Homo sapiens: one gene and its partner. The protein of the gene in region 2 purifies or fractionates together with the protein of the main gene of each other region. This does not show direct contact. Each region holds a gene or a part of one and is shown on either strand. Other genes may lie near its edges. The genes, in order: SNAP23 and STX19.

Region 1 (3,788 bases), on a different chromosome or scaffold from region 2:
GGTGCATTTTGAAACCAGAGTTTTGGAATATAGTAGTTTTACTTAAACCTTCACACATGAAGCTTAGTATCTACTTTAGCTTTTGAGCGTGTTTTTTTCTCTCCCAAATGAGTTTTATTTTGTTAACTAATTTTTTAATTGAGAATGGGGTCTTGCTCTGTCGCCTAGGGTAGTGTGGTGGTACAATCACAGCTCACTGCAGCCTGCCTCCTAGGCTAAAGCGTTCCTCCCACATCAGCCTATTTTGTTAACTAAAAATAAATTAAGTTCCTGAATCCTCATCTCATGAAAGAGTCCGTAGGTGAAAATCTGTTCTGCAGAATAGTTCTTATGGAGTGGACACACGAAATAGAGTCATGTGAGTGAAAGAAAGTTGTGATTCTTTTTTTTCCCCCTTAACTTTACATGATATAAATATAGTGAAAGCGAAATTGTTTTCAGTGTTTTGATGTGTCACATGTAAAGTCATACCTTGGCCAACCGTGGTAGCTCACACCTGTAATCTCAACACTTTGAGAGGCGGAGGCAGGAGGATTGCTTGAGCTCAGGAGTTTGAGACCAGAGCAAGACCTCGACTCTACTAAAAAAATTTAAAAATTGACCAGGCATGGTGGCATGTGCCTATTGTCCCAGTTACTCGGGAGGCTGAGGCAGAAGGATTGCTTGAGTGTAGGAGTTGAAGGCTGCAGTGAGCTGTGATTGCACCATTGCATTCCAGCCTGGGCAACAGAGTGAGACCCTTTCTCAAAAAGAAAGGAAAAAAAGAAAGTCATACCTCATTAAAATCTCAGTGAACTTTAGGGTGAGTTTTTAAGCTTGGCTCTCTGTTAAATCACTTTTGATGGATTTAATTGAAACAGTGGTTCACAAGATGCTTTAAATGCTGCAGTCTGGGTTTAGGCTATATTTACCTGTCATTTTAATTCAGATGTTGGTGAGGATGGTAATAGATTCGTTTCAAAGATCTTTGGAAAGGTTATTTCAGTCTCTCCAGGTTAGACTTAGGGTGTCTGAATCCAGATGAGATTCTATGATTCAGTTCAGAGGACTCACACAAGGTCCAGATCTTTAACAGAGAAGAGCACTCTTTCATATTTCATTGCATCAAAAAATGCCATTGATTACAGGATGCATCCCAGTTTCAGGCATGTTAAACTATGAAAAAATGCGTTATAGAATTTATGAAATATTGGCAAGGTCTTATATGTTACACCTTTGTCATGTTTATATACCAGGGGTTTTCCAAATGAATTTCATATTCTGTTACTTCTTGCCCAACATGAGTTTTGTAATGTAACTTCACGTGGTTTCTTGGATTTTCTTGGTGTGTCAGTTACTCCAAGTGTAAAAAGTTTAATTTTTATTAGAGTTACTTACCTTGTAAAGCTGATATCTTTCTTGTTTTTCAGGCTGACACCAACAGAGATCGTATTGATATTGCCAATGCCAGAGCAAAGAAACTCATTGACAGCTAAAGCTACTGCTGTTCTTCTTTATCATTTATTCACTTCCGTAGCTCCTCCTTGAAAGTTATTACCTTTTCAGAGTTTAAGTTTTCGGTTCCACGCTCTTCTAATTGGGAGATAATATGGAAGAAGGGCCAGAGCAGTTACAGCCCTCCTTCTTTTTTGTTTTCTGTTGAGGGCCGACTGCTGCTCTGCCTTCCTTCTAGTATTTTCTTTCTCAATTCATACGCTTAGATTGGTTTTCATATGTCATGTTTAGTGTTTTCATCCTCCTCATATACTTCAGCAGGTTCTTTTGCTTTCAAGATTTGGAAGCATTGCCAAAGACAGCCATGAAGAAGGAAGCTGTAGAGGTGTTTTTTGTTGTTGTTTATTTTTGCTTTTGTGGTTGAGGGAAGGACAAGAGATAAGAGGTTGTTACCTCAGTAAAAACCTTCAGGCCACAAAGCAAAAAGTTGCATAGCCACAACGAAGATCTAGTTGGATATAGTTTTTGATTTAAGTTGCAGTTATAGCCAATTTAGGCTAATGCTTGGTTTTGGAGCTTTTATACACAACGTTTTTGTTAGGCATCACAGTTTTGCAACCTCTGCTCCAAAGAGAAAAATAGAATGAGTTTTCTTTCTTTTTTTTTTTTTTGGAGTCAGAGTCTCGCTCTCTTGTCCAGGCTGGAGTGCAATAGCGCGATCTGGGCTCACTGCAACCTCCGCCTCCCTGGTTCAAGCAATTCTCCTGCCTTGCCTCCTGAGTAGCTGGGATTACAGGCGTGTGTCACCACGCTCGGCTAATTTTTGTATTTTTAGTAGAGACAGGGTTTCACCATGTCAAGCTGGTCTTGGACTCCTGACGTCGTGATCCACCCGCCTTGGCCTCCCAAAGTACTGGGATTACAGGCGTGAGCCACTGTGCCTGGCTGAGTTTTCTTAAAGTGAGCTTAATTTCTGAACTCTTAGTGATTCATATATGTACATAAATCTGTGATCCCATTTCTTATTGCACCATTCAGGAACACTTTATATAAATGAGTGGCTTTTTATTTCATATTATTAGTAGTATCATGGTTCCATTACAGGCCTATTAACATCATACATTGTCATTAGTCTTTGAAGAAAAAATATGTAAATATATATGTGTAACATGAGAATTTCTCTCTAAAGCAGGGCTTAAAATTTTTTGGAAAAGTTTGACAAAGCATACCACATGAATTCAGATTTACCTCAATGCTAAGAATTATGTTTAGTTAGGAAAAAGGAAAGTCATTTTGACCTCAGGTAGAAAAATAGATTGCTTTGAGTTTTATGTAGCTTTAGACTTTAAAAAGTTAGAATTTATTCTGTAACTAAAAATTATTTGAAAAAATTATGCCTCTGGTTTAATTATTGGTGATTACACACTCTTTCTCTTACCCTTGTGTATTGAACTATGTCCATAATCAAGTTGATGTGGATCCTGAAAAGTGTTATGAACATCTGATTGGTATTTGTCACATTTATTTTAAAATTAGCATCTGAACACTTCAAAGCTGTCAGTGTGTATTGGTTTCACCAATAACCACTGCTTGATCCTTACAATTAAATTTTTTAACTAACTAATGGTATTGTTCTTTCAAATAGGTAACATGTTTCTATGACTGTTATTTGGGGGAAAATAGTTTCATCAGCTCTCATTTAACAAATTAATAAAGCAAAGATCCATACATCAAGAAACACTACAGCAGGAAGCTGCCTTTAGCATCTTTCCAGTATTTATTGAAAATATTGATGGGACTTAAACTTACCTTGCTAAAAATTTATTGTGAGGTTCATTTTAATCATTACTAGTCTTACTCACTTGAGCTTAAATACACTAGTGACTGGAAGGGTAATGGTTCTGTGTGAGAACTACAACTCACTGGAGAAGATACAGTTAATGTGGGAGCTTTCAAAGGCTAAAGAGGAAAATATTTAAATAAAGTGAGATGCAACTACACCCTCTGTAATAGAAATGCTCCATGTCAAAATGAGTGGTTTGGCAGGGATGGTAAATATGTAAAGTAAGGTGTAAAACGGAGGATTGTGCTTTACCTAAATGCCTTTCCTAAAACCATTTACCATAAAAAAAAATTTTAGCACTGTTCTGGATAAAGGAAATAGTTCTGAGAATACCAGCATGCTACACTCACAGTATGATTGGTTAGAAGCATGGGCTGAGGCATTATCTGAATTTTCACTCTAGCTGAAGTGACTGTAAGATCATTTCTGTGCCTTAATTTGTCTGTAAATGCAGATTAATACAAGCATACCTCAGATACTGAGGGTTCAGTTCTAGACCACTACCATAAAG
Region 2 (3,825 bases):
GAGGCGGGTGGATCACTTGAGGTTAGGAGTTCAAGACCAGCCTGGCCAACATGGTAAAACCCCATCTCTATTAAAAATACAAAAATTAGCTGTGCGTGGTGGCAGGCGCCTGTAATTCCAGCTACTCAGGAGGCTGAGGCAAGGAGAAATCACTTGAACCAGGGAGGAGGAGGTTGCAGTGAACTGAGATCACACCATTGCACTCCAGCCTGGGTGACAACAGCGAAACTCTGTCTCAAAAAAAATAAAATAAAATAAAACTGAAGAAGCAAAAATACCTACACATGCAAATTACCTAGAAACAGGAGTTTAGATGCAACATATAGCTAAGGAGCTGAAAATGACTGCCTTTATGACTGTCTTTAAGGAATGGAGAATTGGAAAGGGGATGTGGTACGGCAGGTAAGGGTCAGATATATATCTTTAGAAGCCTTGACATGACTTGACTTGTTAACCTGTGTACATGCATTATTAATTTGAGGGAAAAAATAACATTTTTAAAAAGCTTATTTAAAAAGCTTATGGCTATATTAAATGCGACATGGTATCTTCAACACTTTGGGGAATAATTTATTTTCAGCATCAATATAGTAATACTAGAAAGAGCTTATAGATTAGGGAGTCATAAATACCACTAAACCACAAAATGAACACTAGGAAGCTATACAAGATAAATTACTAAGCCAACCTACTTTAACATCAAATTTTCTCTATACTGAAAAGAAGACTAGTTCTTATCAGATGTATATAATAAAACATGGGTGATAATTCTGCTTTCACAAAGTTGCCACATGGTAAAAAGTTTCCACATTACTTCCCAATAGTTTTACATGTCTTTAAGTATCTATACCTGGATAAGCATCAAATATTTTATACAATATTTGGCCAGGCATGGTGGTTTGTACCTGTAATCCCAGCACTTTGGGAGGCTGAGGCGGGCAGATCACTTGAGGTCAGGAGTTCAAGATGAGCCTGGCCAACATGGTGAAACCTTGTCTCTACCAGAAATACAAAAATTATCTGGGCATGGTGATGGGCACCTGTAGTCTCAGGAACTCGGGAGGCTGACGCAGGAGAATCGCTTCGAACCCAGGAGGTGGAGATTGCAGTGAGCTGAGATCATGACACTGCACTCCAGCCTGGGTAACAGAGCGAGACCCTGTCTCAAAAAAAAAATTATATATATATATATATAATAATATTAAACACGAAAGACAAAAACAACTTTTTAACACCTAAAACTGGCAATTCTTTCTATAGTATCGTCTAATATTCCTCCTGACTAATCTTCCTTTCATAATTGTTCCAGGTTTAGTATCATTCATAGCTCATTTTTTTCCTTGGATCTTATAGAAACACTAGCTTTGGTTAGCTCTACTCTGAAGGTAGAGAAACTGTTCCTTGCCAGTAAAGTAGAATATAGACAATAAAAATATGCAGAGGAAGAGGCGTATGGAATCTCCTTCCAGCTTAGAAGTCCCCTATTTACATAAATTGTACTGACTGAACTTTTTTACCTTTACTATAGCAAATCAGTGGCAAAAACAAAAGATTACCGGCTATTTGAATTAAGTATTTAAAATAGGTGAAATAAATAGTAGAATGCTTTAAGTGCATTTCAGCAACAAAAACTTGCTCTTAAATGTTTCCCACCGGTACTTAAAATGCTCAGCAATATAGTCATGTGGCAATAAAGTAATACAGCAAATGTTTCCGAATAAACTTTTAATATCTATAAAACACCTTTTCCTGACACAAACAGATTTCAAGGTCTTATCCCTTGTGATCTGGCTCTTTTCCCAACCACTTAACTGACCTAATTGCCTCTTTTCAGAACTCACCCTAAATGATCTAACACCACTGAAAAACCTTCATAGCATAGTAAAGCTATGCTATGTCATAGTGAAGTTACTATGCTCTAGTATGCTATACTGTCGTATAAAGAGTTGAGTCCTTCAAACTATACTGCCAGAATCTGAATCTCAACTCTACCACTAGCTGACAACATGGTTCAATTACTAAAGCTGAGATCGTAATTTCATTATCTATAGAATAGAGATCATGACAATACTTGTTCTTATAAGAACATAAAACACACTTAGTGCCTGGCACATATTAAGAGCTCAAGTAAATCTAAGATATCAAGATCTCAACATAAGAACTCAAGTAAATATAAGACTCATCAAGGTGCTGGGAAAGAATAAAGACCCTCTACTTTCTCCTCTAAGTATTAACTCTATGAGGTACCAGAATGAATAAAAACCCTTGATCTCATGGAGTTAATACTGGGAGGAGAAAGTAGACAATTAAGTTAATATAAATAAGTAAAATACATGGTATGTTAAATAGTGAAAAATGCTAAGAAAAATAAAGCTGGGAAGGGTCAGAGAGTTGAAAGAAGGTATAGTTCAAAATAGGGTGACAAAGAACATCCTAACTCAGGAGTGACATTTCAGTAAGGACTGGGTTGGGGAAAAACGTCACATACTACATGGGAAAGAACACTTCAAATAGAAGAGAAGGCAAGTGCCAAGGCCCTAAAGCCAGATGGTGCCAGATTTGTGTGAGAACAGCAAGGACAGTGAGACTGAAGCAGAGAAAGGGAGAGTTGTAGGAGGTGAGGTCGGAGGGGTAACAGAAGGGGTGAAGTCATTGTGGAGCTTTGTAGGCTCTAGTTTTTCCTCTAAGAGATAATGCCAAAGGAGGATTTTAGGCACAGGAATGACATGGTCTGACCTACATTTTAACTCTGAATTCTGTGTTAAGAAAAGACCAGAGGTTTTGTGGTGGGGGCAGGATGGGGGGTAGTTGGTGCAAAAAGGAAACAAGGAGAACACTTAGGAGACTATCGTTAACAATCAAGATGAAAAATAACAGGGACTTGACCAGTTGCGGTGGCTCATGCCTGTAATCCCAGCACTTTGGGAAGCCAAGATGGGCGGATCATGAGGTCAAGAGTTCAAGACCAACCTGACCAATATGGTGAAACCCTATCTCTACTGAAAATACAAAAATTAGCCAGGCATGGTGGCATGTGCCTGTAGTCCCAGCTACTCGGGAGGCTGAGGCAGAAGAATCGATTGAACCTGGGAGATGGAGGGTGCAGTGAGCCAAGATTGTGCCACTGCACTCCAGCCTAGGCAACAGAGGGAGACTCTGTCTCAAAAATAAAAAATTAACAAAAATAACAGGGACTTGAACCAGGGAGATGGTAAGAGGTGGCTAGATCCAAATACATTTTGAAAGAGATGTTGACAAGATTTGCTGTGCTTGCATATGAAATGTAGAAAAAAAAAGTCAAGAATGACTTCCAGCCAGGCGCGGTGGCTCACAGCTGTAATCCCAGCACTTTGGGAGGCCGAAGAGGGCGGATCGCCTGAGATCAGGAGTTTGCGACCAGCCTGGCCAACATGGTGAAACCCTGTCGTTAATAAAAATACAAAAATTAGCTGGGCGTGGTGGCACATGCCTGTAGTCCCAGCCACTCGGGAGGCTGAGGCAGGAGAATTGCTTGAACCCGGACGGCGGAGGTTGCAGTGAGCCGAGACCACACCACTGCACTCCGGCCTAGGGGACAGAGTGAGACTCGGTCTCAAAAAACAAACAAAAAAAGACTTCTGAGTCTCTGGTCTGAGCAACTGGAAAAATAGAGTTGCCAGAAGAGAGATGGGGCAGTTTACGGGTTCACAGGAAGATTATGAGCTCATTTTGGATAGAGGCATTCAAATGCAGCTGTCAGGTAGGCAGTTTTTTAAGAGCAACCTAAACTGGAGATACAAATTTGGGTCATCAGCTTACAAACAGCATTTAATGCCATGAGACTAA

What was found.
Region 1: the proteins of STX19 (region 2) and SNAP23 purify together in Homo sapiens (affinity purification with mass spectrometry; 3 studies listed by BioGRID and IntAct, with this or other methods). This does not show direct contact.

Annotation. Positions count from the first base shown.
Region 1 is NC_000015.10:42,530,004-42,533,791, forward strand, and holds the end of SNAP23 (synaptosomal-associated protein 23), read left to right. Parts: intron 1-1,409; coding exon 1,410-1,475; 3' UTR 1,476-3,055; downstream 3,056-3,788. UniProt on the Homo sapiens protein: Essential component of the high affinity receptor for the general membrane fusion machinery and an important regulator of transport vesicle docking and fusion.
Region 2 is NC_000003.12:94,018,553-94,022,377, reverse strand, and holds part of STX19 (syntaxin-19), read left to right. Parts: intron 1-3,825. UniProt on the Homo sapiens protein: Plays a role in endosomal trafficking of the epidermal growth factor receptor (EGFR).